Linked DNA regions of Homo sapiens: region 1 is linked to region 2. The links come from fine-mapping of genetic effects on gene expression. A gene starts in region 2. The other region holds a variant in brackets. All regions are shown on one strand. Distances are from middle to middle.

Region 1 (16,050 bases), 39 kb before region 2:
GGGAAGTTTACAGAAGTCCTACCCATTCCTAGAACTGGCGAGTTTCCACACTTGAGCAGGTGGAGGGCCTGAAGACCTCAGGAGCTTTTCTGAGTTTGGGTTTGAGCTCAGAACCCAGCAGCACCTCTCTTACCATAGGAAGAAAGAAAAGACCAGGCAACAGCTGTACTACAGGGCGCGAAGAAAGAGAAAGAATTAGCTATCTGTCCTCAAGAAATGAAGATTTTTTTTTGGCAAGCTATAGTGCAACATGTCAGGTGGAAATAGTCTATTTTTATATTAGGTTGGTGCAAAAGTAATCACGGTTTTTGCCACTTTAATGGCAAAATACTAATACTTGCACCTAATACTTTACAAATAGAAAGTGTTGCTCTTCTGGGAGAGAACATGGAGATATAGAGTCAGGAAAAATATCTAAGGCCAATAAGGATTTAAACAGAACCCCCACCAATAAAGTAATCTACTACAGGCTGGGTCTATACAGTTCTCTCATGTAATCCTCGGATCAACCACGTACGGCATATGCTCTATGACTATTTTGCAAATGAAAACATTTAAGTGAAGTGATCCTTTTATTTTTCTCAAGGTGTCTGTGGAGCAGTCATTGTGTTGCTTTGTAAGAAGTGGCCACCTTCAACATGGGAAGATGCTCTATCTGGCCCCGCCTAGGTCTGCCTGTTCCCTCAACACAGCCACTTCCCACTCAGTCTGCTCTACATCTCTATGCACACTGTCCATCTGGCACAAAGAAGGAACACCAGCTGGTACATAAACTAGCACTGGAGGTATTTCCAGTAGCCTATGACCTTTGAATGGATCAACCTTTCACAGTCAACTCCTGATTATCTGCAAAAGGCTTGCACATCTCCTTGGCAAAGTTCTGGCACATAAGTGTTATTTCAACAATACAAGAGAATAATTCCACAAGTTAAAGGAATTTTCATCTTGGCCTACACAAAGTAGTAGGAAGATAAATCTGCAGGGAAAAAGGAATAATAGAGCCTCCAATGTCAAAGAAAAATCTATTCATTGTGGATTATCTCTTGCTCTCCTCCATTAAGGCAGATAATTGGGGTTACCTGAGTCTCTAACCTTACAACACTGCTGAAAGCTAGGTATTAGTCTATTTTTATAGCTGATGAAAATGAGTGTCAGAGGTTAAGCAATTTGCCTCAGGCCTTACAGCTAGTAGGTGTTGGAAGAGAGGCTCTTCAACCTCACTTACCTTTTGTAAGGCACTCCCCTCCCAATAAAGCAAACAGCAGAATGAAATGAAGGGAAGACACTCCTTCTCTTTAAAAGCATGATTAAGAACAGTTAAAAATTTGGGGCTTAATTATCCAGCCTTACACTTTGTCAGCTACCTATAGTGAATGTTACATCTTGTCCTGGCCTTTTCCTTATACCCAGTAACTTTCAGGCCCCTGTCAATGGTATGTGCTCAATGGCTAAAGAATAATATTAATATTAGCCTAAACAACATTGCATTGCAAAGACAAAATCAAACGGGGAAAACAATATCAAGATACATGATTCAAGAGCTAAGCACAGTGGTGCACATCTGTAGTCCCAGCTACTCGGAAGTTTGAGGCAGGAGGATGACTCGAGCCCAGGAGTTCTAGTCTGAGCAATATAGTGAGACTCTGTCTCTAAAAATAATAACAATAAAAAGACATATGATTCATTCCAAGTCAAATAAAAAAGACTTCTTATCTTCAGATAAGCTTGGATCTATCACTTTATTAATACCAACAGTAAAAGTTGCCACTAAACATTGAGTATGTTAGCTCTAATTTAGAAAGTAGAAATTAACATTTCTATATTAAGTTGAGAAAACTAAAACTAAGCAACTTGCTCAAGGCCATTGGCCTAATAAGTGCTAGAACCTAGATTCAAACCTGGGTGTTTCTCACTTATAAGCCTGCAGCCTTCCTAACTGCACTAACGTCTATAACTAAGAAATGTTTGTATGTGTCGCTCATCACATAATTACTTCTCAGTCCCTCATAATTCTTAGATAATGGAAAGACACAAGACTGAGAAATCTGAATAGAGCCAGTGCCCAGAAATTGTCACCACTGGATTTAGTGCCTAAAATTTCACACTTTCAGTCAGCCAATGAGAAAACCCAGTTAAATGCAAGAACAAGCTAGAATGGATAGCATAATAACCAACTAAGTTGGTGACAAAGTCCTGAGAAACACTCAAGAGAGGTCTCAGTTTACTGGTAAAAAAAGGAGGGCATTGGACACCCAGGAGAAGTAGAAAATGGCCTCAGCCTCAACAGCAAACCCAACTGTAGCACCACGGCTTGCCCTGGCTAGAAACACTCCCCATCTGATGCATAGAAAATGGCTTGTATAACATCTTTTAGCAAGGCAATGGTTAATGTAGTATTAGAGCTCAGAGGGCCCAGCTGCTAATATACAAATCTGTTCAGAAGACATGGCTAGTATCTACACTGTGTCTTCAAGAAACAAATGGAGTCAAAATCCTGATTCTTCAGCCAAACATGTTTGCTACAGGTCCCAAAAAGGCATATACATAGAGTGATCCCATGCTCACATACTTTATTATCAGCTGAGGTTCTGACCCCAAATCTTTCCTCCTCTGTTGAGCTGCATAAACACAACCCCACTAACCTAGTTAAGACTTAGCCTAGAAGCAGGTGAAGTTTTGTAGGCCAGTGGCTCTGCATTAGTCACCTTGAGGACGTGTTAAAAGTTGGACTGCTGGGCCCCACCCACTGAGATTTTGATTCAGTTTGTCTAGAGTGGGACCTGAGAATTGTTTACATTTCTCATAAATTATCTGATGATGTTGATGCCACCAGTCTGTGGACCACACATTGAAAATGACTGTTATAGACCTACACTCAAGACTTGTCCCCAGGATCCTACAGCTACAGAAGCAGGAGGAGGCAAGGCAAGTTCCAAGAAAATGCACTTCTACACAAGGGCAAGAACAGCTGGCCAACCCTTCCTTTCCCCAGAGCCCTACCTGAATCCTCCTAGGACTTCCAAAGGCCCAGGGCCACCTTTCAACTGACAGGCTACCTCAGGCCCATCTCTCATTGCACCAGATACACAGGGAAAAAAAGAAAAACAAAATTGAAAAGACAGTCTGAAGAGCAAAATAAGTCCCACTTCCCTCCAAAGGGTAGAAAAAAATGTTAACCCCCTTGCTCCTCCCCCAGAAACTCCACTTCCTATCATGATGACCAAGTTATTGATCATTGCTTTTGTGGAAGAATAAGGTTAAGCTTAGATGTGCAATTAACAAGGTTTATAGTCACGCGCTTTGCCAGATGAACAACTCTTTGCAAAAATATTTACCATAAAATAAAGAAATTGGCACTTCCAATAAAAATATCACTACAGACATTTTATTTGGCCATCCTAGAGAAACATCCACAGAAGTGATCAACACATAATAACCTCCCAATTATCTTTCTCTTTAAGACTTATGGTTTCTTAAAGTGCTTTTTTTTTTTTTTTTTTTGAGACAGAGTCTCACTCTGTTGCCCATGCTGGAATGCAGTGGCACAATCTCATCTCACTGCAACTTTTGCCTTCCTGGTTCTCCTATCTCAGCCTCCTGAGTAGGTGGGATTACAGGCGCGCACCACCACGCCTGGCTAATTTTTCTATTTTTAGTAGAGATGGGGTTGTGCCATGTTGGTCAGGGTGGTCTCAAACTCCTGACCTCAAGTGACCTGCCCGCCTCGGCCTCCCAAAGTGCTGTGATTACAGGCGTGAGCCACCACGCCCGGCCACTTAAAATGCTTTTAACCATGCAAATTAGAGAGGCTAGAGTTAATTTTATAATGCATTAGATAGTTGCTGGGATTACTATTGATTTTTTTCATTTCAAATGGCATTCAGTTAAGGAATATGTACAAATCATCACTGCTTCCATCTTGAATGGTCATTTATAAAATTTTAGGGGCTAGAACACATAAAATATTTTTAGCTTGGAAGATGTGTTGCAGGGTGGAATGTTTGTGGGAAATGTCCTCTACATGAAGGATTTCTGCTCCAAAATGTCTTGATTAATTAACATAAACAGCTTTGAGGAAAAAGAGAACAGCATCTCACGTCTGGCAGGATCCTGGCAGGGTTCTTTGGAAATTCCAAGGCAAGCCAAACACAGGGAAACCAGGCCTGTTCCATCCACGGCTGGTCCAGTTCCAGGGAAACGCCTTGGGCTTGGGAGAGCTCTGGAAAGGCTCTGCTCTAGTTGGCAGTAAACCAAAGTCCATTTCTTCTTTTGCTCCCAGGTCCCCTGAGATAATGAATTGGCTTCAGAGCCCTGGAGAAATGGGCTACAGCTGAGGAGACCTGGAGGACCCTGTCAAGAATGGCCTCAGTCAGGTGCGGTGGCTCACACCTATAATCCCAGCACTTCAGAAGGATTGTTTGAGGCTGGGAGTTTGAGACCATCCTAGGCAACATAGTAACACCCTGTCTCTACAAAAAAAAAAAAAAGAAAAAAAAAATTTAAAGAATGACCCCGATGCCCTGCTCTGCACTGTGAGCTTGTCCTTCCAGAATTTCAAAATGGAATGAATGGAATTAAGCATTATGAGAAAGAAATATAATATTTACTGAAAGTATCCTGCTGAGCTTTTAAAACATATGTTATTTAGTTCTTGCATTAACACTGCAAGACAGAGATTATTGCCTTTTCTATAATACCAGGGGAAAAAAGGGTGAGCAAGAAGGCTAAGTCATCTGCCTCACATCACATAACACATTAGTGACAGAATCAGGATAGGGACAAGAGCCTATTTTATAGCAAAGAAACCATCTTCTCCACCGGATTCCTCCAATTAACTATAGAAAAGGGGAAAGTTCAAAACAGCTCAACACTATTATATTATTTTAAGCCATTCAGACACGAAGTGGGAAATAAGTACTTTGCAGGTTTTTCTCAATATCAAGGAGTGATTCCCACCACCGGGTTCTTGGGCAACATTGCAACATTGTGAAAAAGGTGATGTTGGTTTACAACCTTTCTATATCCCAGCCTCCCTCTCCTGTACCTCTACTACTCCTCTACCACCCAGGGCCTACATTAGCCCCTCATCAGAGCTCCCCTCTCACTCCTGGAGTTTTCCAGAATCCTGATGTGGTCTCCCATCCAATGTCATAAAGACCATGTAATTGTGCCAGTGTACAGAGGAGAGATCCTTTGTACAAGAAGAAACCCACCTCCTACTAGTCTTAAACACCTCTTGCTTAAAAATTAACCCTTCCACGCTCACCACCAACCTCTTTTCAGTACTTCCAATGCTTCCATATACCTGGGCTCAATTTGTGAAATGAGTGTAAAATGCTATCTGAGTAAAATAATTTGCACCACTTGAATGACAAATGGATTCAACTATTCAGAGATATCTGTATTTTAAAGGAAGAGTTCTTAATGAATTTTGAACACTGAAAATTGTCATGAACTGGAAGGTTTTTCTAGATGTATTTCTTTCTGATTTTATCATGTTTCACTCTTATCTCTCAATCAGTCAGGGAGCAGTCATGGACTTGGTGTCCCCCATATGAAAGTTTGCCAAGGCCGGGCGTGATGGCTCATGCCTGAAATCCTAGCACTTTGGGAGGCTGAGGCAGGCAGATTGCCTGAGCTCAGGAGTTCGAGACCAGCCTGGGCAACATGATGAAACCTCGTCTCTACTAAAATACAAAAAATTAGCCGGGCGTGGTGGTGCGCGCCTGTAGTCCCATCTCCTCGGGAGGCTGAGACAGAAGAATCACTTGAACCCAGGAGGCAGAGATTGTAGTGAGCCGAGATCGTGCCATTGCACTCCAGCCTGGGTGACAGAGTGAGATTCTGTCTTCAAAAAAAAAAAAAAAATAGAAAGAAAAAGTGAAAGTTTGCCGAAGTGTGATCTAACATTACCAGGTTTTGATTTGATTAACCTTTTTGCTGCTGCAGTTTCTTCTAAATAAAAAGATTTAATATTTCCATGAATAATCTTCTACCTAGGACTAAAATAGCACCAAGAAAACCTATCAGAGTTCAAAGACCTATGTGATTTGCCCAAATTTTAGAAGAATTGAAATGTGTAGTTTCCCCGAAAATATGTCATTAAGTATTACATATCAGAAAACTTAGGCCAAGTGTGGTGGCTCACGCCTGTAATCTCGGCACTTTGCAAGGCCAAGGCAGGAGGGTGTCTTGAGCACAGGAATTCAAGACGAGCCTGGGCAAGATAGCAACACCCCATCTCTACAAAAAAAAAGTTTTTTTTTTTAATTAGCTGAGTGTGGTGCTATGTGCCTGTAGTCCTAGCTACTTAGGCTGAAGTGGAAGGATCACTTGAGCCCAGGAGTTCGAGGCTGCAATGATCTGTGATCACACCACTGCACTCCAGCAGCAATGACTCTGCTGGAGCAAGCACCTGTCTAAAAAAAAAAAAGAAAGAAAGAAAAGAAACTAATTTTTTTAATGTATAGTAGTCAAAATATTCTTTGTTCAGACATGCCACTTGCCTAGGATTGTTGAATAGCTGGTAAGTCCTGTCTTGTTTAGCATCAGAATACGTATAGCATAGCAATTTTAAGAAACTAAAATATTAAACTACATATTTGCTTTCAAAGCAAAAGTTACATAAAATATCTTTGGACTATTATTAAGAAAAAAATTGCCTGCATATTTAAAAATTCAATGCTATGTTTTCTAAAGAAGGATGGATGGAGACCCCCTTACTGGTGCAGAAGGTCAAGCTTGCCTTAATGGTCTTAGGCAAACACTCCTTGCTTAAAAATTCACCTTTTCTACAATGTTTGAAAATAGAAGGAGGAGGAAATATGAATAGTGGAAAGAAGAAAAAAGTAGGTCAGGGCTTCG[A/G]AACCCTGCCATCTGTTCTTTATCACCTAATATAGATCTCTGTTTTTCCCAGTCACCACTCTTAGGACATCTACTATAGGGGACAGTTTATGTCAGTGATGGCATAATTACAGACTATTCCTCCCAGGCCCACATCTATATATGCCATCACTTCAGGCCCACAGGCCACCCCACTATTTCTCCATCTTAACCCTGGCCCTTCTGTCTGTGGGCCTTTGCTCAAGCCATTTTTCTCTTCCAAACACATACTCTCCCAGTCCTCAATCTCCCTCCTAATTAAACTAATAGTAGATTAAACTTTAATTAAGTTTTATTCATTTCTCAAGGCCCATTTGAAATGCTCCTTTTTTCAAGGTCCCTTTCTTGTTTCTTCCCAAGGGTGGCACATTTCTCCCTGTCGGAACCTCTCAGGTATTACCTTTGTGTTACTGAATGGGCCTTGTGTGATAGTTATTTGTGTTCTATAACAGATTCCCCCTACTAGAACTTCTACCAGAAAAGGAAGCAGGGCTTGTTTATGCTTGTACTTTTAGAAAGGGTTGCTACAGTGTCTAGAGCAGAGGAGGTGTTCAGTAAATGTGTTTTCCAATGGAAATAAGATGAAAATTTCAGACAGACAATGAAAATAAATAATTCTAGACTATTTCCTTCTTCAGTTTTTTTAACTTCCCATCTGCCTGGACTCCTCCCCTGCCTTTCTTTGAATATGAGGTTAAGTTTCATGTTCTCACACTTTGCTGTCAGTTAGCTGTGATCCTACCAGGAGATGACAATACTCATCTAGAGGGATAAGAGTGGGCACAGGCTATGGCCCATCATGATGAAAAAGAAGTAATAGGAGATCAGAAGCCCGGCCAAGCAGGCTTGTTTGTTCATCTCCCATGCTGACTTGCTTAGTGGCTTTGTAGGTCACTTTCTATATTAAGGCTTTATATCTAGTGCAAAAAAAAATTAAAGTTTATGACGTTTTTAACATCTGGAGAGACCATCAACAATAGGGTCTAGTGTCCTGTGGCTTCGTAGTCTCCTCTGGGCAATGGTATAGAACAGCATATTTTTTAAGCCTCAATCAAAAAGCAGGTTTAGGTAGCAATCTGGAAGGTTCTCCATGCTAAGGGGTTTTTTTGTTTGTTTGTTTTTGTTTTGTTTTGTTTTGTTTTGTTTTGTTTTGTTTGAGATTCAGTCTCACTCTGTTGCCCAGGCTGGAGTGTAGTGGCATGATCTCGGCTCACTGCAACCTCCGCCTCCCAGGTTCAAGCGATTCTCCGGCCCCAGCCTCCGGATTAGCTGGGATTACAGGCATGCTCCACCACACCTGGCTAATTTTTGTATTTTTAGTAGAGACGGGGTTTCACCATATTGGCCAGGCTGGTCTCAAACTCCTGACCTCAGGTGATCCACCCACCTCGGCTTCCCAAAATGCTGGGCTTACAGGCATGAGCCACCACGCTCAGCCCATGCTAAATTTTTAAATTTTGCCTGAATTACTCTAGAAGCATTTTCATTTTACTAAGTCACTTAATAATTTGTTCTACAGCAAGGGTATTTTTCCCACCAGCCAACCTCACCCAAGAAAAAAGCTGCTTAGGCTTTTTTCTTTCTGTGCCACTACTGCCCATCAGAGGACATGATCCCAGTCTTCTGGGCAGAGAGAGACAGTGCTCCCAGATGGCCTGAACTGCTGATGAGAACCGTCCATTGAGCAGTTTGCACAAAGGCATGGCAGTTTTCAGGAGACTTTGGTGCCTCTCCAGGTGTGCTGTGAGGTTAAAGAAAGGCAGGCCAGGTGTGGTGGCTCATGACAAAATTAGTTGGGCGTGGTAGCACATGCCTGTAATCCCAGCTACTCGGGGGGCTGAGGCAGGAGAATCACTTGAACCCGCGAGGCGGAGGTTGTGGTGAGCCAAGATGGCGCTATTGCACTCCAGCCTGGGGAATTTAAAAAAAAAAAAAAAAGGGAAAGGCTTGCCCTGGGTGCCCGTGGTTCTGGCCTGGACATTGCCAATAAGCGTGTTCTAAGACATCCCCCTCCTCTTCCTTTCCTACTGTCCTGTGTGCCCTGCCCACCTTGGCTCTGCCAGGTAACTCTCTTGTACTATCCCTTTGTTAGATTGTAAATTCCAGGGCAATCTCAGTAGTATATTCTTATTATCTAAGGTTGACTTAGGAAGTATAAAACTGAATAGAACCTGTTTCTTCTTCAGCTTCTTCACTGACTAGTCTAGATTGAGTCATTGCCTGTGACCTCTTGCTTATCCTAGGGAACAGGCCAGTTAGAGATGCTCAAGGAGCATAGTTGGGAGACCTAGATGATACTTCAGCCTGAGAGAAGGAATATGTCTCCAACAAGGAGTCCCCAGGGACACCTCCCGGATGAATCAGACCTGAAAAAAGAGAAAGTGATTCCTTTCAGCTAGTTTGCACGTGCCACTCCTGTATCCCCACCTCCATGTCACCCTGAATCAGCTTCTGAACTTCTAAACTTCAATATCCTTTTCCACATGTTCCACCCTTTGTTACCTGTCAATGAAAGCCAGAATAGCAAGCTGCTGCCACTTTCTTACAGGTTGGTGAAAAAACACCCGAACTTCTCATATCTGCCTACTTTCACCTTTGAAAAGAGTAGGGCTACTCAGGTGTAAGAAGGATGAAAGAGAAACTAGAGGGACCCACGAAAATTCCCACTTGCTACACAGTTTTTCCTGAGGCCATGCTATGTACCCCTCACCAGTTTATCTTCAACCCTTCTCTAATGATAAAAGCTGTGCACCCTTGTTAGTGGGAGTGTAAATTGGTTCAACCATTGTGGAAGACAGTGTGGCGATCCCTCAAGGATCTAGAACTAGAATTACCATTTGACCCAGCAATCCCATTACTAGGTATATATACCCAAAGGAGTATAAATCATGCTACTATAAAGACACATGCACACGTACATTGACTGCGGCACTATTCACAATAGCAAAGACTTGGAACCAACCCAAATGTCCATCAATGATAGACTGGATTAAGAAAATGTGGCACATATACACCATGGAATACTATGCAGCCATAAAAAAGGACGATTTCAGGTCCTTTGCAGGGACATGGATGAAGCTGGAAACCATCATTCTCAGCAAACTATCACAAGGACAGAAAACCAAACACCGCATGTTCTCACTCATAGGTGGGAATTGAACAATGAGAACACTTGGACACAGGGTGGGGAACATCACACACTGGGGCCTGTCAGGGGGTGGGGGGGCTGGGGGAGGGATAGCATTAGGAGAAATACCTAATGTAAATGATGAGTTGATGGGTGCAGCAAACCAACATGGCACATGTATACCTATGTATCGAACCTGCATGTTGTGCACATGTACCCTAGAACTTAAAGTATAATAAAAATAAAATAAAATATAACAGTTCATAACAAAGAAAAAAAAAGCTGTGCACCCAGGTGCGTCTCCGCACTTCAGTGGGGACACTGGTTCATATGCATGCAGGTCAGTTTCCTGAAGCTCCTCAGACACATCTCCTGGGAGATTTTCCTTGGCACAGAAGAAAGAATAATAGATCTCTTCTTTGCCCATTTCTCTAATCTGACTTTGTTTTACAAAACTGCAGATCCAGGGTGAAGAGTGTTAGTATAGTAGATAAGTTCAGGGTTCTAAAGTCAGAAAAGTCTGGGTTCAAATTGTGACTTTGTAACATACAGTTTTATGTCTGCAAGCATATCACTTTGGGTTTCTTGGCCTTCATTTCCTCAAGTAAATAAAGGAGATAAGGAGACAACAGGTAACTTGCCAGGTACTGGGAAGATAATACATGTTTCTACATGTCCTTAGCACAGTAAGTATTCAACAATGGCAGATATTACCCATATTGGGTGAAGGCTCAGGTCCACATAGTCATATGTGTTAATGGTGCTCCCTGGAATTGCTCAGTGCAATGACTGCAGGAACGTTTTACCCCACAGTTCTGGGAAGAAGTAAAGATGAGGACCTTTAAAAATTCACATGAAGTAGAAGTTAGACACAGAGCGGGCAATTCCCAGCAGTGACACCAAGCATACACTTGGTTCAGGGCAATTCTGGAGATAAAGAGGAGAAAATTTGTTTTTCTTTTTTGGAGACAGGTTCTTGCTCTGTTGCCCAGGCTGGAGAGAAGTGGTGGGATCACAGCTCACCATAGCCTCGACCTCCCTGCTTAAACAATCCTCCCAGCTCAGTCTCCCTAGTAGCTGGGATCACAGGCACGCATGACCATGCCCAGCTAATTTTTTTTTCTATTTTTTTGTACGGGGCGGTGCGGGGGGTCTCACTTTGTTGTTCAGGCTTGTTTTGAACTCCTGGGTTCAAGTGATCACCTTGCCTCGGCCTCCCAAAGTGCTGGGATTACAGATATGAGCCACCACACCCAGCCAAAAACTTTAAAAAATATTTTTTTCCTGCATCAAGGGAATGATACATTGCAGAACTTATTTTAAGTACAGACTTGCATTTGTAACCAAACAAACACCTCAAATTTTTTTAAGAACACTATAAAAATAGAGAATAACTTTATTATTGTAAGTTCATGTGAAACACTAACTAGAATGTCTGAGTATGTAATGGGGTATTAGGCACAAACAGGAGAAATGCTGTGCCAATTGGACATAATTAGACACAGAGATTAGACATAATTGTTGCCATTGAGAGCTTCTGGCCAGGTTTGGTGGCTCATGGCTGTAATCCCAGCACTTTGGGAGGCCAAGGCAGGAGGATCCCCTGGGATCAGGAGTTCAAGACCAGTCTGGCCAACATGGTGAAACCCTATCTCTACTAAAAATACAAAAATTAGCTGGGCGTGGTGGTGCATGCCTGTAATCCCAGCCACTCGGGAGGCTGAGGCAGGAGAATCGCTTGAATCCAGGAGGCAGAGGTTACAGTGAGCCAAGATCATGCCATTGCACTCCAGCCTGGGCGACGAGAGCGAAACTCCATCTCAAAAAAAAAAAAAAAAAAAAAAAAAAGGAGCTTCTGGTATAAAGAGCAGGGATTCTTAACTTGAGAATTATGGACAAGCCTTGAAGGACCCGCCAACCTCCAGAAATTGTGTACACAATTGTGTGTGTACTTGTGGGCAATTTCAGAATGTCCAGAGCTTTCTTCAGAATCTCAAAAGGATTAAAAAAAAATAGAAGAAGGAAAAAGAAAAGATGAAGAATCACAGATCAAGACTAAAGAATCATTGAATTATAGTAATTTTTCTATGGAATGCTACAAAAGTAGAGTACTCACAGTCATCTAATTCTGGGGTTCTCACACTGTTCTAGGTAAAGGACAAACTTAATTCTTGGCCCTGCTGAACTTAAGATAAGCTCAGTGTTTCATTCCTCTGTAAACATGTGATTTTTCAATACATTTGGATTTCTCAGAAATTGTTCACAAAACTTGTGCCAAAATCTATGATTCCCTTGGTATTACATTTGGGCTGCTCCAAGCCACAGGGTAATTTACAACCAGCCCGCTGTGTTGAGCCCACCCCCCTGTATGACCAACAGGAAGAGAAGTTTGGCAGCAACACTGCCCTAATGAATGAAAAATGCAAACCTTGCAAATCCCTCTGCATTTAAATCCCCCAGAGTCCTGATGCAGACACATTTCCAAAAAGCCTGCATTTCCAAGATGTAATTTACTGTCCTTAGAGGTTCATGTGGGCCACCCAAAGTAGATGGGCCTTATTAAAGCAGCTTTTATCGGCCAAGCAGATACAGTGTTTTTTATTATCAAATGGGGGAAATTTGATGAAATGAGCAGCTTTGGTGAGAAATGATAAATTGCACAATGTCATGGCATATTCTGGTGAGCATTTGCACATAGGGTCGCAGCAGAGGCGCACTGATCTCCGTGTCTCCACATGGCTTCACCATATTCCAATCCAGTATCTTGAAGAAGGAAGGAGACTTTAGGTTAGTTGTACCTTTGTATGGGATATTCTTCATAAAAACAAATGTGTACTGAGAGAGAAGCTACCACTAAATTCTCATGGGAAGAAGCCAGTAATTTCTTTTCTTTTTTCTTTTTTTTTTTTTTTTTTTTTGTAGACTAGACCTCAGTGAGGCAGAGACTCCAGGGAGGTGCTGGATAGAGGAAATCTTCTCCTTTGGAAAATATGCTTTTCCTGGAGCATGGGGTACTAGTCCCCTAAAAATAAGATTTTATTACACAACACAGGATACAAATTGTAGTACAGGTCCAGGATCCATTATTTACAGCCCTTGGGGCAAGATGTGTTTCAGAATTTGAAATCTTTCATTTCTTAAGGCCAGGAACAGTGGCTCATGCCTGTAGTCCCAGCTATTCAAGAGGCTGAGGCAGGAGGATTGCTTGAGCCCAAGAGTCTGAGGTTACAGTGAGCTATGATTGTACCACTGCACTCCAGCCTGGGCAACAGAGCAAAACCCCATCTCTAAAAATGTTAAAATAAAATAGAATCTTTCCAATTCTTAAAAGTTAGGGCTGGGGCAGCGGCTCATGCCTGTAATCCCAGCACTTTGGGAGGGCAAGGCAGGAGGATCACTTGAGTCCCAGAGTTAGAGACTACCCTAGGCAACATGGCAAAACCCTGACTCTATAAAAAAAATACAAAAAATTAGCGAGGTGTGGTGGTGCACGCATATAATCCCAGCTACTTGGGAGACTGAGGTGGGAGGATCACCTGAGCCCAGGAGGAGGTTGAGGTGCAGTGAGCCGAGATCGCACCACTGGATTCCCGCCTGAGCACAGAGTGAAACCCTGTCTCAAAAAAAAAAAAAAAAAAAAAAAAAAAAAAATTAAGACTTGCTGAAGGCTCAGGTTATCATTAGCATTTAAAATGTTAATATAGGGTATATATACTCTATAACTAAGAGAGGATGGGGAAACACCCTATTACTAAACAAATTCTTTTCATTATTTTCTTCTGCCAATGTTAAAGTGTTGATCATGTCCCCGCTCATGGTCCCAAGATGGCGATGGGTACAGCAGATACAAGAATATTGTTTTCATTCAGTGATAATCAACAGCCAGGAGAAAGGTGCTGGGGTTTCATGTTGTGTTTCTCTTCCCTATTGTGGAGAAAAATTCATTCCTAGAAGCCCCAGGGAGACTTCCCTCAGATACTATTGCCTAGAACTGGGTCCCAGACATATCCAATACAAATTCCAGACAAAAATGCATTCCCTAAACTTGGGAGAGATATGTCTTCCCTGCACACACTGTTGTTATAGCTGAACAAAATCCAGAGTTCTTATGCAAGGAATGAGGACAAAACAGTACTGGATAAAGCAACAAATGGAGACTAACACCAGAGTGTATCAAAAAACCAAGGCGAGGTTCTAATTCTTAGGAAGGAAATAGCATAAATTACCGAAATAGAATCTGATTAAAGTATTAGCCATCTGGGACCAAAATCTGTGTGCTGCCTCTTCTAAGAAGCCCTCATGGGCACCAAAGCAGACTTGTTACTCAGGTACACAGACTCATTTTTATTGGTTTATCCAGTGGTGATTTGTATCTTATCTTGGGATTTTACATGGAAGTCATGATACTTTACTCTCAGCAATCTAAGGGAAAGGAATGAAGCTGGAGGAGGTGGGAGTAAGAAAATAGAAAATGCGACCAGGTGAGGTGGCTCATGCCTGTAATCCCAGCACTTTGGGAGAGCGAGGCGGGTGGACCACCTGAGGTCAGGAGTTCGAGACCAGCATGGCTAACATGGTGAAACCCCGTTTCTACCAAAAATACAACAATTAGCCAGGCATGGTGGTGGGCGCCTATAGTCCCAGCTACTTGGGAGGCTGAGGCAGGAGAATCACTTGAACCCGGGAGGTGGAGGTTGCAGTGAGCCGAGATCACAACATTGCACTCCAGCTTGGGCAACAAGAGCGAAACTCCGTCTCAAAAAAGAAAGAAAAAGAAAATAGAAAATGAGGCAATAGGCTGGACGCAGTGGCTCATACCTGTAATCCCAGCACTTTGGGAGGTAGAGACAGGCAGATCACTTGAGGCCAGGAGTCTGAGACCAGCCTGGCCAACATGATGAAACACCATCTCTACTAAAAATACAAAAATTAGCTGGGCTTGGTGGCACATGCGCGTAGTCCCAGCTACTTGGTAGGTTGAGGCAGGAGAATTGCTTGAACCCAGAAGGCAGAGGCTGCAGTAAGCCAAGATCACACCACTGCACTCCAGCCTGGGCAACAGAGTGAGACTCTTTCTCAAAAAAAAAAAAAAAAAAAAAACAATGAGGCAATAAAGAGATAAGTTATAGACTAGACCAGGGGTCAGCAAATTATAGACTTTGGGCCAAATCCAGCCTATTGCCTATTTTTATAAATAAAGATTTATTGGAACACAGTGATGCTTTTTGGTTTATGCATTGTCTATGGTTGCTTGTGTGCTAACAGCAGAATTGATTAATTGCAACAGAGACCATATGGCTTGCAAAACCTAAATGTTTGCAGTTGAGCCCAACCTGGAAAAACTTGCTGATCCCTATACTGGTCCCAACCACCAAAGCAAGTGATAAAAAAAACAAATGTACCCTAAAATCTATGCACAAGGTCATAGGCATCTGCAAAGTTATAGGGCCATGGCCACTAGGAAAAAGGAAATCACAAGGGCAGGGCTGTAATTCAGAGTTCACAGCAGGATTAGAGGATTAAACAGGTGACTTGGATGAGATATCACAATGAAAGCCAAGGTAGATGCATGGTTCTTCCAAATAAGCATCTAAACAAGGCGATGGGCAAGGGTGAGTGTGTGAGTGTGAGTGTGTCTGAGTGTGTGTGTGTGTATGTGTCTTCATCTGTGTGTAATTCAAACACTGAAGGCAGGAACCCCATAATTAGGGTGAGAGCACCAAAGATGAGCACACTACAAATCAAGGAAACTTAGTGTTCAACACAGATTTGTAGCACAGAGCCATACTTTGTATATTGCATTGGAGTAAACCTGCAAGAGAGTTAAATAACAATGTTTCACTGGTTTGAGAGGAGCCTAAAGTGGCTGAAATGATCCTGCCTCAAGTCAATTATTTTGGCAAGTGAGGGGAACTAAGCCATGTGCGGTGAGATCAGCAGCACATCTGAAAATCACTGGGATCAGTAGAGGAAGAAAATGAACACTAGGGTGCTGCATGAACCTAACTATTTCAATATGGGGGTAATTGAGACTCTTGATC
Region 2 (16,050 bases):
GACCGAAAATGAAAAAATGTCATCACTTCGAAGTGTCATCCTCTTATTCTATGCAACAACGAAGCATTTCTCAATTGGATTGTGACATGCGATGAAAAGTGGATTGTATATGACAACCATTGACAACGAGCTCTGTGATTGGACTGAGAAGAAGCTCCAAAGCACTTCCCAAAGCCAAATTTGCACCCAAAAAATGCCATGGTCACTGTTTGGTGGTCTGCTGCCAGTCCACTACAGCTTTCTGAATCCTGGCAAAACCGTTACATCTGAGAAGTATGCTCAGCAAATCGATGAGATGCACCGAAAACTGCAATGACTGCAGCCGGCATTGGTCAACAGAAAGGACCCAATTCTTCTCCATAACAATGGCTGACCCTACGTCAAACAACCAATGCTTCAAAAGTTGAACAAATTGGGCTACAAAGTTTTGCCTCATCTATCGTATTTACCTGACCTCTCACCAACTGACTACTGGCAAGCTTCTTCAAGTATCTTGACAACTACTTGCAGGTAAAATGCATCCACACCAGCAGGAGGCAGAAAATGCTTTCCAAGAGTTCGTCAAATCCTGGAGCACGAATTTTTACGCTACAGGAATAAACAAACTTATTTCTTGTTGGCAAAAATGTGTTGATTGTTATGGTTCCTCTTTTGATTAATAAAGATGTGTTGGAGACTAGTTATGATGATTTAAAATTCGCAGTCCAAAACCCTAATTACTTTTGCACCAACCTAATAGGTTACAAGAGCTCTGCCCTTATAAATGGAACTGGTGCCCTTATACAAAAGGCCTAGGGCAGCCTGTTTGTGTCTCTTGCCATGTGAGGACACAGCAAGAAGGCACGATCTATGAGGAACAGGCCCTCACCAAACACTGGATCTGCTGGTACCTTGATGGAGGACTTACCAGCATCCAGAATTATAAGCAATAAATGGCTATTGTTTATCTATTACCCAGTCTAAGGTATTTTGTTACAGCAGCTTGAATGGTCTAGGTCACTGGGTGGCAGAGACATCCATAAAGCTAATGAAGCTTCAGCTCAGGGCCTGTCATTGCACAGGCCTCTTGTGAGAGTGGGGAGCTTCTAGGAGAAGTGGAGTGTCCTAGTGGAGAGGGGGTGTCAAGCTGTACTCAGGAAGAATATGTAAGGATTCTGGTAAATTACCTATAAATCTTAGAAGAAAGACATCTGCATCTCCAGGGCTTCGGGAATTTGTTGGTGATTTATTTCCTCATTCTAAATACATATTCATCCAAATTTCGTATTTGTAATTGCATTATTTTCGTTAAAAAGACTCCCCAAACTATATAAACTTCTGGTCCCAGGACATGAAGATTTGCCCCTGCAGAATAATTTTGTATCTATCTGAGGTCACTGAACATGAATTTACAGTGATGTCACTCATCCTGTTCTGCGACTTGCTCCAACAGCACTTGGCTGGTTGTGTGCAGAAGAAAGTACAGTCAAGCTGGGCATGGTGGCTTAGGCCCGTAATCCCAGCACTTTGGGAGGCCAAGGCAAGTGAATCACTCGAGGCCAGGAGTTTGAGACCAGCCTGGCCAACATGGCAAAACCCTGTCTCTGTCAAAAAAATACAAAAATTAGCTGGGCATGGTGGTGTGTAGCTGTAGTCCCAGCTACTGGGTGGGCTGAGGTGGGAGAATCACTTGAACCCAGGAGGCAGAGGTTGCAGCGAGCTGAGATAGCACCACCACACTCCAGCCTAGGTGACAGAGTGATATCCCATCTCAAAAAAGGAAAAAAAAAAAAAAAAGAAAGAAAGGACAGTCAGGTTTGTCCAGAGTTGGGGTTTTGTGAGATAGGAATGTTTACTGAAAATGTGGACCACAGAATTTAAGCTGGATAAGGAGAAGGGAGTGAAGAAAGGAAATGTCTGATAGATCACGGGAAAGCACAAGTCTTAATAGACTAGAAAAGCTGTTGAGAAGAAGGAATAATTACATAGGGAGATATTGAAAAATCAAGTTGAAAGATGTATAGCTAAAGTGGGATGCTGGAAGGGAATAACAAAATGCACAAAGATGATTGCTTGAGGTGATTTGGATAGATTTTTCTTTTTTCTTTTCTTTTTTTTATTTTTTTTTTGAGACAGTTTCGTCTTGTTGCCCAGGTTGGAGTGCAATGGCGTGCGATATCGCCTCACCGCAACCTCTGCCTTCCGAGTTCGAGTGATTCTCCAGCCTCAGCCTCTGGAGTAGCTGGGATTACAGACATGCGCTACCATGCCCGGCTAATTTTGTATTTTTAGTAGAGACCGGGTTTCTGCATGTTGGTCCGGCTGGTCTCGAACTCCTGACCTCAGGTGATCTGCCAGCCTCGGCCTCCCAAAGTGCTGGGATTACAGGTGTGAGCCACCTCGCCCGGCCTGATTTGGATAGATTTGAATGTCATAGGAGATGAAATGGTCATTTGCTTCAAGAAAATGTCTAAATCTGAAGATCTCCAAGGACCTGCACAATCTGTCCCTTGCCTGCCTCTGTACCTCAGCCAGTGCCAATGTCTCCATCATTCACCCCACTGCTGCCTTCATTCAGTTCATTAAATGCTCCTTCCAGCCTGAAAACCTGTACACCTGCACCTTCTCTTTTGTCTGGAATACTCTCCCTTACTATGTCCACCAGGCCAACTTCTTCTTATCCTGAGGATCTCAATTTAAAGCCTGAATTTCCTGGCGGGCGCTGTGGCTCTCACCTGTAATCCCAGCACTTTGGGAGGCCAAGGCAGGTGGATCACCTGAGGTCAGAAGTTCAAGACCAGCCTGACCAATACAGTGAAACCCCGCCTCTACTAAAAATACAAAAATTAGCCGGGCGTGGTGGTGCACGCCTGTAATCCTAGCTACTTGGGAGGCTGAGACAGGAGAATAGCTTGAACCCAGGAGGCGGAAGTTGCAGTGAGCCAAGATTGTGCCACTGCACTCCAGGCTGAGAGATAGAGTGAGACTGCGTCTCAAAAAAAAAAAAAAGTCTTTTCCTCAGGGAAGTCCTTCCCAACCTACCGCCCTACTCCTGGGGGGTACATCCTCTGTTATATGCCCAAACAACACTATATTTTCTTCCATAGCATTTATCAACTGTATTGCCAAAATGATGGGGTTAATTATCTGCAAAAGCTTTTCTCTAGGAAAGAGGAGTGTGGGAACAGGTCTGGCTTTCCCCTACTGTATCCTGGGTCCTCAGGGACTGGCATATAATAGGCATCCCATAAATATTCGTTGTATGAATAAAATTTAAGATACTAACATATAATAACTTTTTCCAGCGTGCCTTTTAAGGCATAAAGATATAAAATATGATTTAACAAATAATCTAAACATGACATATAAAAATAAGGCAAATTTCCTTTCTAAAATATATACATGGAGACATATCTATCTTCAATTTCTCTTCAACCCTGATTTAATTTCTAGAAATACAAGCCTAAAACAACTCAGTAGAAGATAGGAAAAACACTTAAAGATTTTTTACATAGGAATGAGATAACTGAATGCCTTATTTGAAATAAAGAAAAAAATTTGTGGAAATTCCCAAAGCTAAATAATACAAGATATATTACAATTTTCCATTTACAAAGAACTTTATAACAAGAGTGTAGGAAATGGTAAATTTGCTAAAGCCAATAGTTAACTACTCAACAATACTAGTCTTACTAATGCTAATTATACTTTTGGCTCAATGTAGCTACATGCTGCCTATGGGAGAAGAGGAAAACAAATTTGATGGTTTATTTTCATTTGGAAGATTTGTGGCATGATTTATATTCACATACTTAAAAAGAAGTGCTTTGGTTTATTAGCTGCCATAAAAATTACGCTTGTTTATGTTTCAGAAAGAACATTAAGAAATACAGCAACAAACAGCAAAAATCCTACAATATCTAATATGTGCCTGATATTTAAAACTACCATTTCTTTTTTCCTTTTTTTCGAGACAGACTCTCACTCAGTCACCCAGGCTGGAGTGCAGTGGCCCTATGTCAGCTCTCTGAAACCTCCCTGTCCCGGGTCCAAGTGATTCTTGTGCCTCAGCCTCCTGAGTAGCTGGGACTACAGGCACGCGCCACCACACCCAGCTAATTTTTGTGTTTTTAGAAGAGACTGGGTTTTCACCACGTTGGCCAGGATGGTCGCGACCTCCTGGCCTCAGGTGACCTGCTCATCTAGACCTCCCAAAGTGCTGGGATTACAAGTGCAAGCCATCACGCCCAACCAACACTACCATTTTCCTTTTTATTTATTTATTTATTTTTCAGAGACAGTCTCGCTCTGTCTCCCAAGTTGAAGTGCAGTGGCACGATCTCGGCTCACTGCAACCTCCACCTCCTGGGTTCAAGCGATTCTCCTGCCTCAGCCTCCCGAGTAGCTGGGACTACAGGCGCGTGCCACCACACCCGGCTAATTTTTGTGTTTTTAGTAGAGACTGGGTTTCACCACGTTGGCCAGGGTGGTCTCAAACTCCTGGCCTCAAGTGACCTGCTCACCTAGACCTCCCACAGTGCTGGGAATACAAGCGCGAGCCATCGCGCCCGACTAACCGACCAACACTACCATTTCTTTTCTTTTCTTTTCTTTTCTTTTCTTTTCTTTTCTTTTCTTTTCTTTTTTTTTTTTTAGAGACACAATCTCGCTTTGTCGCCCAAGCTGAAGTGCAGTAGCGCGATCTCGGCTCGCTGCAACCTCCGCCTCCCGGGTCAAGCGATTCTCCTGCCTCAGCCTCCCGAGTAGCTGGGACTACAGGCGCACGCCGCCACGGCTAATTTTTTGTATTTTAGTAGAGACGGGTTTTCACTGAGTTGCCCAGTCTGGTCTCAAACTCCTGAGCTCAGGCAATCCACCCACCTAGGCCTCCCAAAGTGCTAGGATTACAGGCGTGAGCCACCGCACCTGGCCAACACTACCATTTCTATTTCTCATTAAACTTCTGCAAAATCGGTGTTGCAATTCCCATTTCACATATCGGGAAACTGAGACTCAGAGACATTGTGTAATTTACCCAAGGTCACGACTACTCAGTTGATGACCTGAAAAGTGCATCCAGATCTGCAAGAAGTTCCGCCCTTGTGATACTGTTAAGTGCCTGCCAAAAGATGACGGTCTCTAAACCCCAGTGGGAACCAGGCTTTTTCAGATTTTTCTTTTTTGAGACTGAGTCTCAATCTGTAGTTTTGTTGACTCTTTATTTGCTTACTACCCTATGCCACTACCTCCATATATGCAGGGATCTTTGTCTTGTCACCACTCCAGCACCTAATTTCTTATTACAATCATCTAACATTTTCAAACTCAGAGGAGCTTCAGAATATGAATGTTGTGTTAATAAGAAAATGACTGAAGTTATGTCTTTCCAGAAATGCTCATTTATGTCGTCATATTTTTAGCACTTTTATCTGATTATATTATCTGCTGAAATTGGCTTTGGGGCTTTTTCACAAATAAATTGGAGAAGATGTTTATTACAGAATCATGTTAAACTCAGGACCAGTATAATAATTGTGAAACACACAAGGAAGTAGGCAAATAGAACTAGGGTACCCAGTAAATTTCCTTCCTTCCTTCTTTCTCTCTCTCTCTCTTTTTTTTTTTTTTTTTTTTTGACGGAGTTTTGCTCTTGTTGCCCAGGCTGGAGCGCAGTGTCGCGATCTCGGCTCACCGCAATCTCCGCCTCCCGGGTTCAAGCTATTTTCCTGTCTCAGCCTCCCGAGTAGCTGGGATTATAGGCGCGCGCCACTACGCCCGGCTAATTTTTGTATTTTTAGTAGAGATTGGGTTTCTCCATGTTGGTCAGGCTGGTCTTGAACTCCCGACCTCAGTTGATCCGCCCGCCTCGGCCTCCCAAAGTGCTGGGATTACAGGCGTGAGCCACCGCGCCCGGCCAAGTGTCCCTCTTCTAGTCCAGCATCCGAACAGTAGATTTCAAACAAATACAAAGTTAAGTGGAATAGGCAACAAATGGAAGGGGTGTGAGACTTCAAAATGTCTCAGAGATAGGACCCAACCAAATCCTTGGCCTCGCCAAGCGCCCCCATCACTCTGGCAGAACAGCTCCAGAGACCAGCCCTGGCCAGCCCTGGGTCCCCATCTGTCCTCCCCTCCAAGCTGGTAGCTCCCGCGCCCTCTTGGTCTGTCCTTTAATCTCGCGCGGCGGGGACCGGCAGGATGGTGGTCTCCCCGCGGTTTTGCCTTTCAGGCTCTCAAGTAAAGAAAACCCTCGAAACTCCTGATCTCGAGCACAGCACAAGCTCCGAGCTGGCACCGGGCTGAGTCAAGATGGCAAGCCCCGGACTGAACATTCGAATGTCCCTCAGTCTTCCCCGCGCCCAAGCCCCGGTGCCTCTGCCCTAGCCGAGGCCTCTGCGGTCTTCCCGGGCGAGGAGCCGATTGGGGGCCGCCGGACGGCGGAGGACCCTGCTCCTGCTTCCCGAACTACAGATCCCAGGGTGCCTCTCGGACTCGCGCTCCCTCCCTCCCTTGCTCCCTCCCTTCGTCCGTCTCCTCCCCCGGCCCTTGTTGTTTTGGCTGGAAGCACTCCGGCGGAGTTTCAGAGAAAGTCTGGGCAGAAACCGGAGCCGGGCCTGAACGTGGGAAGGGGAGGAGGAGAGGGAGGAAGAAGGAGCCCGGCGGCCGGGAGAGGGAGGGAGGGATCGGGATCTGGGGCCGAGCCGCTCAGGACCTGCCGCGAGCCCCGGGGTGGGGGAGGCGGCGGGGGAGGAGCGCGAGGGGACGGGACAGCGGGATCCCTCCCAGGAGCCAAGCCGCCAAGCGCCTCGTTCCTCTGCTGCTCCCCGCCCTCTTCGGCGGCCGCGAGAGCGGACCCACCCTCCGGCTTGACCTGCGACCTCCCTGCGCCCGCCGCTCAGAAACGCCCCGCGCTTCGCTGCCAACCCTGCGGCTCCCTCTGTGACCCGGGACCAGCCCCGCGCCCGCTGCCCGTAGGCGGCTCGCGGCTTCCCCTTTCCTCGGCGTTCACCGAGCGCCGCGAAGTGACCCACCCTCCCCCGAGGAGAGGGAAGGAGGATCGCTCCGGGCGCATCGAAACCGAGGGCGGGTGGGCGGGCGAGCGGGCACCGCGCGGGGCATTGTGTGTGTGTGTGTGTGTGTGTGTGTGTGTGAGCAGCGCTGTGTCTGTTTCGGAAAGCGCTCTGGGGAGGTCTTGTCCCTAGGGGGCGGAGCGCAAAGGACAGAAGCTCCGGCACCGAGTCGGGGCAGAGTCCCGCTGAGTCCGAGCGCTGCTGAGGCAGCTGGCGAGACGGCACGTCTGGAGGCGAGGCGGGCGCACTGAAAGGAGGCCGGCGCGCCCGCGGCCCCGGCTCGCGTTCTGTTCAGGTTCGTGGGCCTGCAGAGGAGAGACTCGAACTCGTGGAACCCGCGCACCGTGGAGTCTGTCCGCCCAGTCCGTCCGGGGTGCGCGACCAGGAGAGCTAGGTTCTCGCCACTGCGCGCTCGGCAGGCGTCGGCTGTGTCGGGAGCGCGCCCGCCGCCCCTCAGCTGCCCGGCCCGGAGCCCGAGACGCGCGCACCATGAGCGGTGGTGAAGTGGTCTGCTCCGGATGGCTCCGCAAGTCCCCCCCGGAGAAAAAGTTGAAGCGTTATGTAAGTAGAGCTGCGGGCACCACTCCGCGGGCCTCGGCGTCCACACCCCTCCCCAGTCGGCTCGCCGGCGGCTGCAGCTGGCCGCGCGCGGGGCTGGTTCTTAAACGAATGCCGGTCTCTTTCCCCTTGGCCCCTACCCCTGGCGGGCTCGGGACAGGGTGCCTTGCACTCCCTCACGCCCAGGCATCCACTTGGCCGGACAACTTTCTTCCTCCAGGTTCCAGACAGCCTGCTTTGCGGGCCTGTTCGCCCCATAAAAGGACCTAGACGTCCAGCTAAACTCCTGCTGCATGCTTTTTTTCTTCCTTAGGAAGGATGGGGTGCGATGGAGAGAGGAGCCTTCTTCCTGCTTTATTCCTGCATCTGATTATTGGGCTGATGTGTGCTAAAGCTCCCGCACCGGGAAAACTGCCGAGGTTTTAGGGCTCACTAGCCCTTTCTTTGGTGGGCGCTCCCTCTCCTCCGCCCCTCGAGATGGGTTGCGGGAAGCGGGCTGTGGAGCTGAGGAGTTGGTAGTAGAGACAAGCATATCGAACGCGCGCAAAAGGGAAAGAAAGAAAAGTTATTACGCGCCCTGCCGTTTGCTTAGCAGGGTTCACATTTTCGCGGTTTTGAATTGAGGGACTTTGGAGTTTGGCCCGGGAGCCTTGGCGGTTTGCTGCGAGAGGAGGGCGCTGGGGGGGAGCCTAGTGGCTGGTGTTTGGGCGCCTTGGATGTGCTGTCAAACTCGGCAGGAGGGGACAGCTGAAGCCAGAAGGGATTTCAGTTGCGGTCCTTTCCCAGGGAACCAGAGTGGCTTTAATGGTGTTTGTGTAATTGATACAAGATGCTATGTGTTAAACCGTTTTAGCTGTTAGGAAAAATATTCCTTGAAAGTATCAACCTTGCTTTAGTGGAAACCTGTGTCCTCTTCAGAGGTCTGGGATCTTATTCTTCCTCCCCATTGGTTGTTTTGTTGCTGCTCCCTTGCAAAGGAAAGAAATGACACTTTTGTGCTGACATCTGGATCAAATATTTTTCTAGTAAAATGTGTTTGCAAAAGCAAAATTTATGCCCCCTTAAATATAATATAAATTTAATGCCTGTACGAAGGGAACCCGTTTGTCGTTGAGGAATATCTACACCCAGTATTAGAGCTCAGGTTAATCCTGTTAGTCACTGTTTGCTTGTATAGAACAGAGTGAAGTACACAGAGTGAAGTATTTAACTTCACTGACAACTCACCAGTGAATTTCTGATTTACTTTCTGCCAGAATTTATTATAGACAAGTAATTTTATTGAAAGACTCGATGCCACAAATCATAAGAAAGCTCTCCAGAGATGTGTAATGCCTCCAAATCCTGTCCATCTATCAGTTTTCCTGAATATCCTAGTAAAAATGCTAACTTTATTCCAAAAATATGAACGAGGCAGTGTTTTTTTTTCCAGCTGTTCTAAAGAGAAAGGTAGGGGTGTGTGTGTGTGTGTGTATGTGACAGAGAAGGAAGGGAGAAAGGGGTAGGGAGATAAATATATTTGTTTTGAGAAGGCCCAATTTAGGAAAAACAGATTCTTGGAGGAATTAAAGAATAACATATTTGCTGAACGTGAAAGTGATAATATAGGTTTAATTCATTCTTTCACATGGTTAGTTCATGGCTCACTCAAAAGACGCCAGGCACTGTATTAGACACCAACCATAAGGTCACAAAATACAGTAGGAAAAAGGAAAAAAGCCCTGCCTCTTGGGCTTAGAATTCAATTGAACTATTAACCAGGAAAGAAATCAGCCAAAAAGATTATGTCTTAACAAGAAAAACAAAAAGGAAAGTATAATTTGATCATTACAACTGTTTTCTGAGGTAGGTGTCATCTCTATTTTACAGAAAACAGTCCTGCATTTGAACCCAGATCTGCCTGATTGATTGGACTGTAAAAGGTTAACGACTCTCACCTAGTTCATTTCAAATGTGGAGCTTAGACTAGGTTATCTCTAAAGGTCCTTCAGGCTCACACCTGTAATCCCAGCACTTTGGGAGGCCGAGGCCAGTGGATCACCTGAGGTCAGGAGACCAGCCTGGCCAACATGGCGAAACTCTGTCTCTACTAAAAATACAAAAAATAGCCGGGCGTGGTGGTGTACGCCTGTAATCCCAGCTGCTGGGGAGGCTGAGGCAGGAGAAATGCTTGAACCTGGGAGGTGGAGGTTGCAGTGAGCAGAGTTTGTGCCATTGCACTGCAGCCTGGATGACAGGGTGAGACTCCGTCTCAAAAATAGCAACAACAAAATAAAGGTCCTTTCAGATTATAACTTTTCCTGACTCTGAATATTAGTTGAGAATACAAGAATGAGGTGGACTATGGATCAGGTGCACAGTGCTAAAGAAATGTAAGACCTAGTCTTTGCCTTTAAGTAGCTCTTTGAGTCTTTGGGACCACGAGACAAGTATATGTGAAAAAGCCAACAGTGCAAAGTGGTATATGACTGTGTGTCTAAGTTGAGTGGTATGGGTATTTTTTGGCTGTTCTGAGGAACAAGTTCAATGTAGACTGAAACTATGGGAACATTTGAGAGAGACAGTGGGCTGCCTACATTGTGTTTTCCACAGGAGGATGAATGTGCCTAATAGCTTGGGAGAAACTAGGATTTTCTTTGCCTGGTGTAGCACTGGTGTTTTCTTTACCCACGAATAAAGTAGATGGAGATAGTCCTGGAAGACAGTAGACAGGGCGGCTGTCAGAATAGAGGAAACCAGCATGGAGTGTAATGAGTTAAATAAGGCTTATTTAACTGTCAGGTTAAATAAGGCTTGTATTTTACCTGTCAGGTTGGTGGCCCAGAAGATTTTGACATTCCCAGATTATTGATCTTTTGGCTTTGCTGTCCAGTTTAGATGGTTTTTGCTAAAGTAGCTTTGACCATCAAAGATATAGACATGTATACGTGCATTTCCTATGCTTGTTTTTTTTATGTAGAATGTTTATTTTTCTGGATAAAGGAAACATTGTTGGCCACCCAGTAGGCAAAATGTTTGTGGATAATGATTTGTAATGAATGGATTTGCTATGAAAAGATATCTTGGATGCTTGATACTATAATTATTAAATGAGACTTCAGGGAGTTTGAGCATCATGATTCTGTTTGGAAATATTTGGCCCATGGGACTTTGACAGTTGTCTCACTGTTTACAGCATTTATAGGGTAGTCCGAACACTGATTAAGATGATCCATAAGGGCTTTTAAGTGACAAAAAAATTGTTTTAGTTTTTTTTAATTAATTTTTTTTTGAGATGGAGTCTTGCTCTGTCACCCAGACTGGAGTGCAGTGGCACTATCTCGGCTCACTGCAACCTCTGCCTCCCAGATACAAGCAGTTCTTCTGCCTCAGCCTCCCCAGTAGCTGGGATTATAGGCATCCCCCTCCACACCCAGCTAATTTTTGTATTTTCAGTAGAGATGGGATTTCGCCAGGCTGGTCTCAAACTCCTGACCTCAGGTGATCCACCCACCTCAGCCTCCCAAAGTCCTGGGATTACAGGCATGAGCCACCACGCCTGGCCTTAAATTGTTTTAGTTTTAGCTTTAAAGCCATCTCATATATGGCCCCCAATGTATTCCATTTACAGCTCCGTTTTATGTTTACTGTTTCATAGTCAACTCAAGCAGGATTGTTTTTTGTACACGCTAGTGTGTTAGTCTGATGTGTAAGCTTTTCTTGAATTTTCTAAAGAATGACACACAAAAAAATGAAAGTCAAGAGTAGTCAGCAGATTCCCCAGCTTTTCCTTCTCTTTTTAATTTTTTCTATATTCGCAAAAGGTTCTTTCTTGTATGTGTTTCATTCTCCTGGAAGTTTTTAAAATCTACTTAAAATGTAGGTGAAAATTTTAATGCTTCTTTTCAGGGTTGCTACTGTGGTGTTGCTGTTTTCATGCTGTGTTATATATTAAACAGCTGCTTTTTTACTTTGTTAAGGACCTGATGGAATCATAAACAGATTACTGTCACTAGGATTACAGAAAACAAGTAAAGTCTTGGTAGTATGCACTCAACAATGGTGCTCAGATTTTTAAAGAATTATTTAAAGAAATGATGGTGAAATTTTCATCAGAACCTGAAATTTTAGCTGAAATAAGATGCAAGTCTGTAAATAAAGTATTGTTTCAAGACAGCTGGCTACCACCATCGCTCTGGAGGAGGAGCTTCCTTGCCTGAAGCCCAAACACTAAGTTTGGGCTCCTCCATAGCCCAGCTGTCAGCATTGGGCAGGTGCACAATCTCAGCAGGAGAACCTGCTTCTGAGGCCAGAGCAAGGTGGCCTGTTAGCTGACAGCCAGCCTGGTAGCAAGGCCCCAGCCAGTTCTTAGGTAGGTAATCTGTACCCAGCGTGGGCTCTCTGTCTGCTCTGCAGCTGTCAATTAACAGGACAACTCTTGTCTGGACTTCAAAAACACACCCCTGGTTCTGGAAATGGGCCTAGAAACAGAAATAGCCTCTCCTACTGGGTGGGCACCTGACATCTGACATGGAGGAGAGGGGCGTGGGCAGGCCAAGTGTCAGCATCTCCTTGGTTCAAGGACAACCCAGGACCTGTGCTAAGCATGAAACCCCTGCTCAATAGTGTCACTACAACAAAGAGGACTGTCATGTCTAGAAGCTCTTCCTATCCTTTTTTGACAATTACCACTAGCAATCAATGGATTCTGATGTTTCTGCTTACAGTGACTGAATAAGCATAATTATTCTATTGAAGGAAATTTTTTCTTGCCATCCTCATGTTAGTAAACATAATTCAGACTCCCAATGTTTTTACCTTTTCAAGTGTAGCAAGAATGTTTTTTCTGTTAACAGAGATCATCAACTTGCAATTACATTAAGCCTTTATGATGGTTAATGATAGTTCATTTGTTGTGCCTGGGCTGAATGATAAGTGTAGAACTCTCCACGTGCAACTTGCTGAATCTCCAAATCTGATTGCTACCTTTTGAGATTCAGAATTACTGTTAGGAAGGTGCATTAGTTTGGAGGGGGTAGTTTGAGAATTCTGCTGGCTCTTTAAAATTATTTTTTTAAGAGATCATCTTGGAACAAAAAGTGGCAAGAGTTATAGTTGGATAATCTGTTTGACAAGTGACTGGTTATTTCAGTGTATTTTGCCATAACCTGCTTAAAAATGTAAGGAGTAAAACACACAGCGTTTTTTGAGAGTAAGTAAAATCCCATATTTTAGACTTAACATAAAAATATGTAGATAAGCTATTGACAATTTGCAGACTGAGAAAGTTTCAGAGGTGATAGATTCTTTTTTTTTTTTTTTTTTTTTTTTTTTGAGATGGAGTTTCGCTCTTGTCCAGGCTGGAGTACAATGGCATGATCTTGGCTCATGGCTCACTGCAACCTCCATCTCCCGGATTTAACTGATTCTCCTGCCTCAACCTCCCAAGTAGCTGGGATTACAGGCTCCTGCCACCACGCCCGGCAAATTTTTTTTTTGTATTTTTAGTAGAGATGGGGTTTTGCCATGTTGGCCAGGCTGGTCTCGAACTCCTGACCTCAGGTGATCCGCCCGCCTCAGCCTCCCAAAGTGCTGGGATTACAGGTGTGAGCCACCGTGCCCAGCCAGAGGTGATAGATTCAAAACATGTGTTAGGTACTCAGCAGTCCTAATTTTCTTACAGAGACTGACAGCCAGAAGGAGCATTGTAGTAGATGGGCTACTACTTTACTTTTGAAGAATTTTGTATTAAAATGTAATTTGATGCACCCACTGATGCTTTTAGTGGGGATGTTTTGCTATAGTGGAAGGAAACTCAGACTGAGTGTCAGGACCCGGATTCTACTTGGTTTTGCCATTACCCACCCACAGGAGCATTTGACCATTCTGATCCTCAGTTTCCTTACCTGTAAAATGGGGGAGGGAGGAGCTGTAGATCTTCAGCAGAAGCCCTGTTGCAGTTTAGCGTTCCTCTTCTCAGACATTTTCTTGGGTGGAAGGGACAAATGGGGAGCTCTTCAATAAGCTGCAACATAAATTTTTGGGGGACATAAATCTTCCTTGTGGGGAAATCTTTACTATTTATCTTAAATAGTTTAGTGACTGCTTAAGCAGTATTCTTTGGGGACTCTTGGTTTTTAACTGAAGGCAGACCTGCATGCAGGGCCTTTGGCTGCTGTGCTCCTGGGCTGGGTGCTGTGTCTTGAGCCCCTGTGCAATGCCTGGCTCAGAGTAGGAGCTCAACAGATGCCTGTTGACTGAATAATAAACAGGTATCGCAGGAGCTTTTGTTATGTGCCATGTGTGGAATGCAAGGAAGGAAAGGCCCACTCTCTGCCCTTAAGGAGTTTCTAATCTGTTTGTGAAGACAAGCTGTCAGTCATTTTATAGGAGCTATGATATATGATTAGTTGCCAAATGAAAGTTTAGAGTGAGAACAGGGGATGCAGGGGTACGAGATGCCAGGGAAGACTCCGCAAATGAATTTTACACTTTGCTTTTAGAAGAGCTGGTGTACTGCTGGCAGCAACAGCAAAATCTTAAGGGAGGGCTGGTTTTAAAGGAAGAACAAAGATTTGTGTTGAGTTTAGATGTCCTCATGAAAAAAACTGCTTCCCAGCACCCCAGTTTCATGTGAGGAGTTTGGCTGTCAGCTGTATCTTCTAGTTTGAGAAGTTTTTGTTTCTGCTAAGATCTAATGTTCCTCATGGGTTCCTGAGCACAAGTGAATTTTCTGCATCAAACTAGAAATGAACAAAACAACTTGTTTGGTCACCTGAACTTATTAAAATTCCAAGGGACATGAGTTGTTTAAGATTTCTTTATGTCTGTTTTAAGCTAAGTAATTCATTCTGGCAAGCAGTTAGTTTACAACAGAGAGGGAGCATGTTCTGGTGGGAGGGAGAATAAAAGAGCCTTTGATTCATTTGCTTCTGAGTTCCAGCAGCAGGACCAGGGCTGCCTTGGGCTAGCGTCTTATTTCGGACTTTGGAAGCCATCTTAGCCCAGCTGTGTGAGTGCCAGCTCGTGTTGGGGGGGAGAGAATAACACCAACGGATCACATGAAACCCCCTCTCCCTGTGGATGGAGGGGTTTCTCTCATTTCACATTCCTCGCATCAACATGGCGCCTAATTTCCACCAAGTTAGAGCTCCATCTGAATTTGCCATTTGAACTTGGATTGAAGTCACGATCTTTCTGTGACTCCTTTTATCTCAGTCTGCCAACTAATACAGAAAACTTATCAAGTCACAGTTCTCTTTATTCTCCCCTCTTGGGGTATAACACACATAAAATTAGCATTCTTTCTTTTTTATATTACCCCTGGCAAAAAGTGGCCCATTGTACTGTGGATTTCCATATTTATTAAATAACTAGGCTCTTCCGTTGCCAGTGGGATGGCTATAGGAGCCTCAATAAATTGTAGATGACAATTTAGGCCTGTAGAATTGCTGAGAAAAGTCATTTTTAGGAACTGGAATTTTTTGCTCATTCTAGGCTTCTATGTTTGAGCATCTTAAATAATAGAAGAATGCCCTAACTGGAAAAAAGAATCATTTCTCTTTTAAGCAATTCACTTATTCATAGGAGCGAAGTTCTCCCTAGTTTAAAAGGTCGCATTACTGAATAAAGTACACTATAACCTAAGAGCTTTTGACCTTCTCCCAGCCCGTTTTTAAAAAGAATTAAGACTATGCACTGTAATGCATGTTTGGTTGTTATCTCTGTTACATTAGCTCTTGAAGCATTCTGATTACAACTTGTAGCTGCCAAGCCCTGTCCTGCAGTATTATCTGGAACAAAAATTTTCCATGTGGTTGTTTTTAGCAGAGCTACTATATGCAAACTGCACGTGAAGGATATAAGTTATAAAGGAATAGAGCTTCTAGAAGGAGAAATGTGAGTTAACTTTTTTCTACCATTTAATCATTCTTTCCTCACCTCTTAGTGTGTGTTTCAATAATGTTTATCATCTTTCTAAACTGAGTTTTCTTTTATTTTTATATATTAGAAAGAATGCCAAATTTACCAAGTGCTTTTCTGATGGTGGTTTTCTTTTCTCCCAGCTTTTTACTTTGAATTCATACTTGGCCTAGGTAGTTCTCTTAAGTTATGTGTTCAAAAAACAATGTCCTAAGAGGAAAAAACAAATGGCCACATTGTCTCATGAATTAAAAACAACATACCAAGAGTCCAAACATTTCAATGTAAAAATATTAAGCCTTTCTTTTTTTAGGAAGACAAATATTAAACTTTGCTTTAACTATCCTGTTGTTTTTCCTTTCCCTTTTTTATTTATTTTCTTTTGGTTTGACTCATGTAGTTTAAATTTATTTTGAAAACAGCTTTATACATACTTCTTTAAGAATACTGCACGTAGGGGAAAGCATCAAACTTCCATTTTACATTTCAAGAGAAAAGTGAGAGGAGGCCATCCTCCTGTCAGAAGAGGGGCAAAATGTCA

Which allele goes with the higher level. Positions count from the first base shown, and alleles are read on the strand shown. Sizes are in standard deviations (SD) of each study's normalised expression.
In carriers of allele G in region 1, the expression in sun-exposed skin of the gene that starts at base 7,226 in region 2 tends to be higher than with A alone (small effect, 0.21 SD a copy in GTEx).

Evidence for each region. PIP is the estimated chance that this variant, and not a neighbour inherited with it, causes the effect.
Region 1: its variant is fine-mapped to the expression of GAB1 in sun-exposed skin (GTEx, PIP above 0.99).

What each region holds. Positions count from the first base shown.
Region 1 is chr4:143,290,357-143,306,406 of GRCh38, forward strand. No RefSeq gene overlaps it. Among named protein-coding and RNA genes, the nearest start is that of GAB1, 38 kb to the right of the region's middle. The variant A/G (reference allele first, on the strand shown) is at 6,865.
Region 2 is chr4:143,329,651-143,345,700 of GRCh38, forward strand. GAB1 (GRB2 associated binding protein 1) reads left to right here and starts at 7,226. Exons shown (of 10, transcript NM_002039.4): 1 at 7,226-7,610. The coding sequence starts at 7,539. It overlaps MIR3139 (microRNA 3139), which reads left to right and starts at 13,810; the gene lies at 13,810-13,885. It also overlaps the pseudogene LOC124900789. RefSeq lists enhancers at 6,033-6,242, 7,152-7,965 and silencers at 6,435-6,602, 6,543-6,842, 6,943-7,002, 7,073-7,122.